Regions from separate parts of the Homo sapiens genome. Here region 2 is linked to region 1. A link means that fine-mapping ties the variant in region 1 to the expression of a gene that starts in the linked region. Tissue or cell type: tibial nerve. Region 1 holds a variant in brackets; the other region holds the start of a gene. All regions are shown on one strand. Distances are between the middles of the regions.

Region 1 (2,766 bases):
ATTTGGATGCCTATCAAAGTAATTTTAAATAGCACCATAACATTTATAGACTTTGTCACACTATACATAATATTTATCTTGGTTCTTTTCAATAAACAGCTTACTAAACATCTTTCAATGTCATGAGGCATTTATTTTTTAAGATAAACTAAGGCTATTAAATGTTTCTTTTTAACTTCAGTTATACCGTATCTCTAGTGTTCTTTGGAAGTCTTAAAGTTTTTCAGCTTTGATTTCTGAATGGTGCCTTTCCCTGAGGATGTTATCCTGTAGAAAAGGCAGATTAATCCAGCATATATCAAATAAGCTGCTCATTTTCCCTGAAGTAAGCTGAACAGCATTGCGGAGTCAGACCAAGTGCTGGAAAATACCTTCCTAGTATCTAGACAGCAATTGCAGGCATACTTGGGAACTTGCTTCAGAGAGTGGTGTTTTTCTTTGTTATTTGTTTTTATGTTTTTTTTTTTAATTCTTTTCTTATTTTTATGTTAGATTTGCTTTTAGGGTAAATAATGACAAAACATGAAATAAGATGGAGAAATATTTGCTGTAAGATCAAGCAACAATTTGAATTTTTGCTTTTGCTGAGATAATTTTTGGCATCTTCATCAGGAAATCTTTGCTTATTCCTATGTACTGAATGGTATCGCCTTGAATACCTGAATGGTATTAACATTCCAATACCTGAATGGAATTGTTATGTTACTTTACATAACAGCTGCACAAGGGACGCTCACTAGCACAAGAACGGCAAGGAGGAAATCCACCTCCATGATCCAGTCACCTCCCACCAGGCCCCTCCTCCAATTCCACAGGAGATTTGGGCAGGGACACAAATCCAAACCATATTGTGTGGCTAAATGAAATTATCCGTAACACCTGCCATCACAGTCTTAATAAGTGGTACAAGAATAGTCTCAGAACTCTTTGTTTCAATTGGCCATTTAAGTTTAATAGTAAAAAACTGGGTAATGATAACAACGCACCATAAAACCTTTAGAAGAAAAGAAGAATGTTTTGTGGACTATTTTGGCCTTTTCTGCATGGGGCAGTTTTAAGTTATTAGCTTTTAAAGTGAGTAATTTTTAATGGAAACAACTTGATCAAAAATCTGCCACAGAATTTTGAGACCCATTATAACAACATTTAATGAGAAAAAATTATATAGTAATCACTCACGTTTAACTTATGTACCTTTTCTAGAACTTAAAAAGTCTGGATTAGAATATAGATAGCTATGTTTATTTCTTAGCTCTCATTTCAGAATCACAAGTTCCTCGAAGTTATAATGTGGGTTGATTTGTTTGTTACCTGATGTTCCTACACTATATATTAAGTATTCTAGGTGCTGCTGCAAAATATTAGTTGACATTACTAATTAATTAACTTCAGACTTAAAAATTATACACGGCAAATTATTTAACGTAGTCACTAAATTAAACCTTTTTAACATTCAAGAGCAATCCATGTTTGCTAAAGAATATTGAGAATATTTAGAATAGAGTATAAGCCATAATAAGAAATCAAAATTGTTCATAGGTTCACAAATAAGAGATGCATTTGTTCATTCAACATTGTTCACCACCACAAGGGTTTAGGCTGGTCCCTTTGGGTACAGAGCTCAGACAAGCCCTACATTCACAATGCCTACGTTCCCATGGTGGGAGACAAACTGCAAACAAAATGAGCAAAC[A/G]AAACCATAAAACTTGGAAGCAGTATGTTCTGGGGCAAAGATCACGAAGTGGGAAAGAATTTGATGTATGTGAAGCTTTTGTAGCTGAAGCAGAGGATGAGAATGGAATGAACATGTAGATGTTCACGAGGGCCAGTGTTAGGAAGTTGAATTTTTACTGTTAAGTACAAAAGGAAGCCATTGAAAGCTTTTAGATAGGGAACTAATGTCGCGTTATTGGAAGGAAATAAACCCCCCAAACAGGAAGGCAAAACCAAACCAAACCACACTGATTGCTATAAGGATGGTGGGGGAGCAAAACTGGATCAAAAGAGCTCCAACAGGAAGCAGCTGCAATAGTGCGTCTATCTAAGAGATGATGTGGCTTATGTTAAGGGGATAGCAGAGGAGGAGAGAAGATGATACAGTCAAGATGTATTTGGGAAATAGAACTAAGAAGACTTGCTGATAGACTGGAAGGGGGTAGGAGGAGAGAAGAATGATCCTGGGATATTTTACTGGAACACAAAGTGGACAAGAGTTCTGTTTCCTGAGATGGCAAGGGCTGACGGAGAGTTAGTGTGGCAGAGACCTGTGCTTTTCATGCATTACCAATACTCCCTTTCTTTCTTGGTGTCAGAATTCAGATTTTATTAAGGATGGGAATGGATCCAGCCAAAATCCATTGCTGCCTTCCCTTTCTTGAAGCTAGGTATGTGGCCTTCAGCTGGGTTATGGACAATGAGATACACATACTCAGAAGTATCATGTGAGATTTCTATAAAGGTGTTTGAGACTACATGATGTGACCCTTTTGTATTAAAGCTAAGCATACGTTCATCTGAAAACGTAGCACTTCTTTTCTTAGATAAATATCTAGCAAAAAATGCATACATATGTTTACCACAAGGCAAGTCCAAGAATATTTAAAACAGCACTCTTTCTATAACTTCAAATTAGAAACAGGCCAAAATGCCCATGAACAAATAGAATGGATAAGTAATTTTTGGCATATTCATTCACAATGAAAACTGCTGCAAAATGCCACAAGATGAATGAATTTCACAAATATAATGTTAAACAAAAAGCAAGAT
Region 2 (2,766 bases), 33 kb before region 1:
AGGGAATTTTCTCGTGCAGAGGGGAGACCTGCAATCCCTGGCTTTCACAACGTCCCCCACCCACCCCATACCACACACGCTTAGTTTAACCAGCAGCGAGGAAGGAGGAGGAGCCGGAGAGCACACAGCCTGGAGATGCCAGGTCCTAGGAGATGTATCCACGGAAGAAGCTTTGCTCTCACACTGAAGCCCTCCCTGGGCTACTTTGGGGAGACAGTACCACCCCCTGCCGCCCAGGTGAAGTAAGCCCGAAAGCCTCAAGAAAACCCCTAGTCCCCGGCGTCCTTCTCTTGATAACCCTCTTTCCCCATTTGGGAAGCCTAAGTTTAGCCGAAAAGCAACTGCAATAAGTTTCCCAAGGGCAGATAGGTGATGTTGGGGGGAGAGGGTAGGGAGCACGAGAGTGCCAGAGAGGTCTTCAGCTGCGCACAAAATCAGCAAGCTAAAGTGCATCTTACTTACCAAGGATTTGGTCTCCGGGTTTCCCATCGGCGAACTGAAACTGGTCCGTGAAGAAGTGGCAAAGTAACATAACTCCTGCAGCGGCCAGGTCGGCCTTCGGGAACCTCGCCATGCCGCCGCCGCCACCTCCCTACCCCACCCGCCAGTCCTTCGCCGGTGCTCGGGGGCTCCCGATGCAATAGGCACGACCGGGCCAAACGCTGCGGATCGGTCTCGGTAGGACCCGGAGGCCTTTGTAAATGTCGCTGCGATTTCACAGTAGGGAACCGAGAAGAGGAAGAAGCGAACGCGAGTAGGAGCGCAGCGCTCTTCGGACCTCTGAGGCTCTCTTTGCAACTTGCCACACTCGCAGCCCTCACCCGACACTGAACAACAACCGCGGGGAGGAGAGGCCACTTGCAGCCGAGGCTCGCAAACTGTCGGTTCCACTCGGGCAGCGCCAACCCGGTGCCCGCGGACGGTGACTTCCGAGCCCCAGCGATGCGCTCCACTGGGTTCAAAACAGATCTAATTCCACAGCCAGCGCCGCTGCCTGCCCCAGATCCACTAGGGCTGGTCGGCTCTGCAGGAACTTTCCTCTGTCTAGGGATGGCCCCGGCAGGAGGTTTAGGTTTGCGGGAAGGAGGTTGATGACGAAACCCTCCCGACAAGTTTTGCTTCTTTTCTTCGCCCGACGCAGGGCGCGCGTCCTTTCTCGCAGCCGGAGGAATGGGCAGCTCCAAAGAGCTGAGCCCTGGGAAGGTTAGGGCTGCAGCAGTCTGAGGTCCGAAGCCAGGAAAAAAATGTGTTTAAAAAAAAAAAAAAAAAAGAGGAAGAAGAAAGGAAAAGGGTGGAGTGGGAGGGAGTCACGCTGGAACCTATCGGGAGAGGGTTCCTCCGGGCTCAGGAGGAGGTGGCCCCAAGCCCCCGCGGAGCCCCAGGAGTTTGGTGGCGGAGGAGGCGCTGCCGTCGCCACGCTCCCCCGCGCTCCTTCTCCACACTTTGAGGAGGGAAGGCAGCTCGCAATTTGCCAGATCTGCCGCCGCACCCTCCTCCCTCCTCCCTCCGCCCTCCCCTTCGCTCCTCCAGGCTTCTCCCACCTTCCTCCCTGAAACCGGCAGCCCGCACAGACCTGTCCAATGGCTGCACTTTCCTCGGGGCTGGCTGAGGAGTCGCGGCCAACAGATTAAGCCGGGGGAGCCTAGCGAAGGGGAGGGAGAGGGCCACTCCAGCCCCGTGCGCCCCAGGCAGCCGGCTGCCCCAGAGCGCGGGGAGAGGGGACAGGCCGGGGAGCTATCGGGGGAGCGCGGGGCGGTACCTCCGCGCCGCCGGGGCGCCATCCTCGCAGCCTGCTCGCACGCCCTGGGCAGCTCCGCCAACTGCGCCCCACACCCACCTGGCTCCCGGGCCGCCTTCGCGCCCGACTGCGGGGGGCGATCGCGCCCCGCCCCGACCCTGGCGGGGTCTCCCTGGGCACGAAAGGGTTAACCACAGCTCGCCCCTTCGCGGAGGCTGGTTCTGGTAGTGGCTAGGGAGTGGAGAAAGCAAACCAGAGCCGGTTCGGTTACCGACTCTGCGAAGCCCCCTCGACCCCAGCCCAGCGCGGGAGGGTGGCGGAAGGTGGTGCACCGCAGCGTGGTCCCCGCCGCTGCCGCCGCGGCTTTGCAAAGTGTCAGCGGGGGCGAAAGCGAGAGTTTAAAGGAACAGGAGGCCCATTGAATTTCCTACCGGAGCTTTCAGGGGCTCTGGCTCCCCAGTTTGTTTTTGTTTTTTCAGCTCGGGGATCTGTTTCCGCGTTAACCCTTGCCGGCCCTCTCGTTAGTTGATATCTTATTTTGCATACAGTTAATCATTTTTGAAAGGGATAAATACAAGGAAAAGAAGCAAAGCGCTATTGGTTAAAAGTACAGGATCTAGAGCCCGGACAGCCTGGGCTGGAATTTCACCTCCCCCGCAATGAGCAGTTTATCTCCTAGCCTCAGTTATCCATCCATCAAATGGAGAGAATTAGAGTAACGCCCTTATAAGGTGGTTGCAATGGATTGGATGAGTTAACTGTATATTTAATAAATATAGAACATTGCCTACCGCAAAGTACATGGCTTTGTTTAAGTGTTTACTGAAGCAAAAGTGAGAGAAGACGACTTCAATCACATAATAAATGTGCATGTGTTCTAAGTTCAAGGTCCTTTCCACTCCAAGCTCTGAAGAGTCTATGGATGCTGTCAATAGATGTCTCGGCTTGCCACAAAACCCACTGGAAGTGGATCCGGATAATCAATCTACCTTTGCAAATGTGATGCTCAAAGGACGGCTCTCTCATGG

Which allele goes with the higher level. Positions count from the first base shown, and alleles are read on the strand shown. Sizes are in standard deviations (SD) of each study's normalised expression.
As copies of A replace G in region 1, the expression in tibial nerve of the gene that starts at base 1,222 in region 2 goes up (small effect, 0.24 SD a copy in GTEx).

Evidence for each region. PIP is the estimated chance that this variant, and not a neighbour inherited with it, causes the effect.
Region 2: it holds the start of PLXDC2, and the variant in region 1 is fine-mapped to the expression of PLXDC2 in tibial nerve (GTEx, PIP above 0.99).

What each region holds. Positions count from the first base shown.
Region 1 is chr10:19,781,856-19,784,621 of GRCh38, reverse strand. No RefSeq gene overlaps it. Among named protein-coding and RNA genes, the nearest start is that of PLXDC2, 33 kb to the left of the region's middle. The variant A/G (reference allele first, on the strand shown) is at 1,694.
Region 2 is chr10:19,814,888-19,817,653 of GRCh38, reverse strand. It overlaps PLXDC2 (plexin domain containing 2), which reads right to left and starts at 1,222. Exons shown (of 14, transcript NM_032812.9): 1 at 463-1,222. The coding sequence starts at 574. LOC124902388 (a long non-coding RNA gene) reads left to right here and starts at 1,426. Exons shown (of 2, transcript XR_007062078.1): 1 at 1,426-2,766. RefSeq lists an enhancer at 1,533-2,298.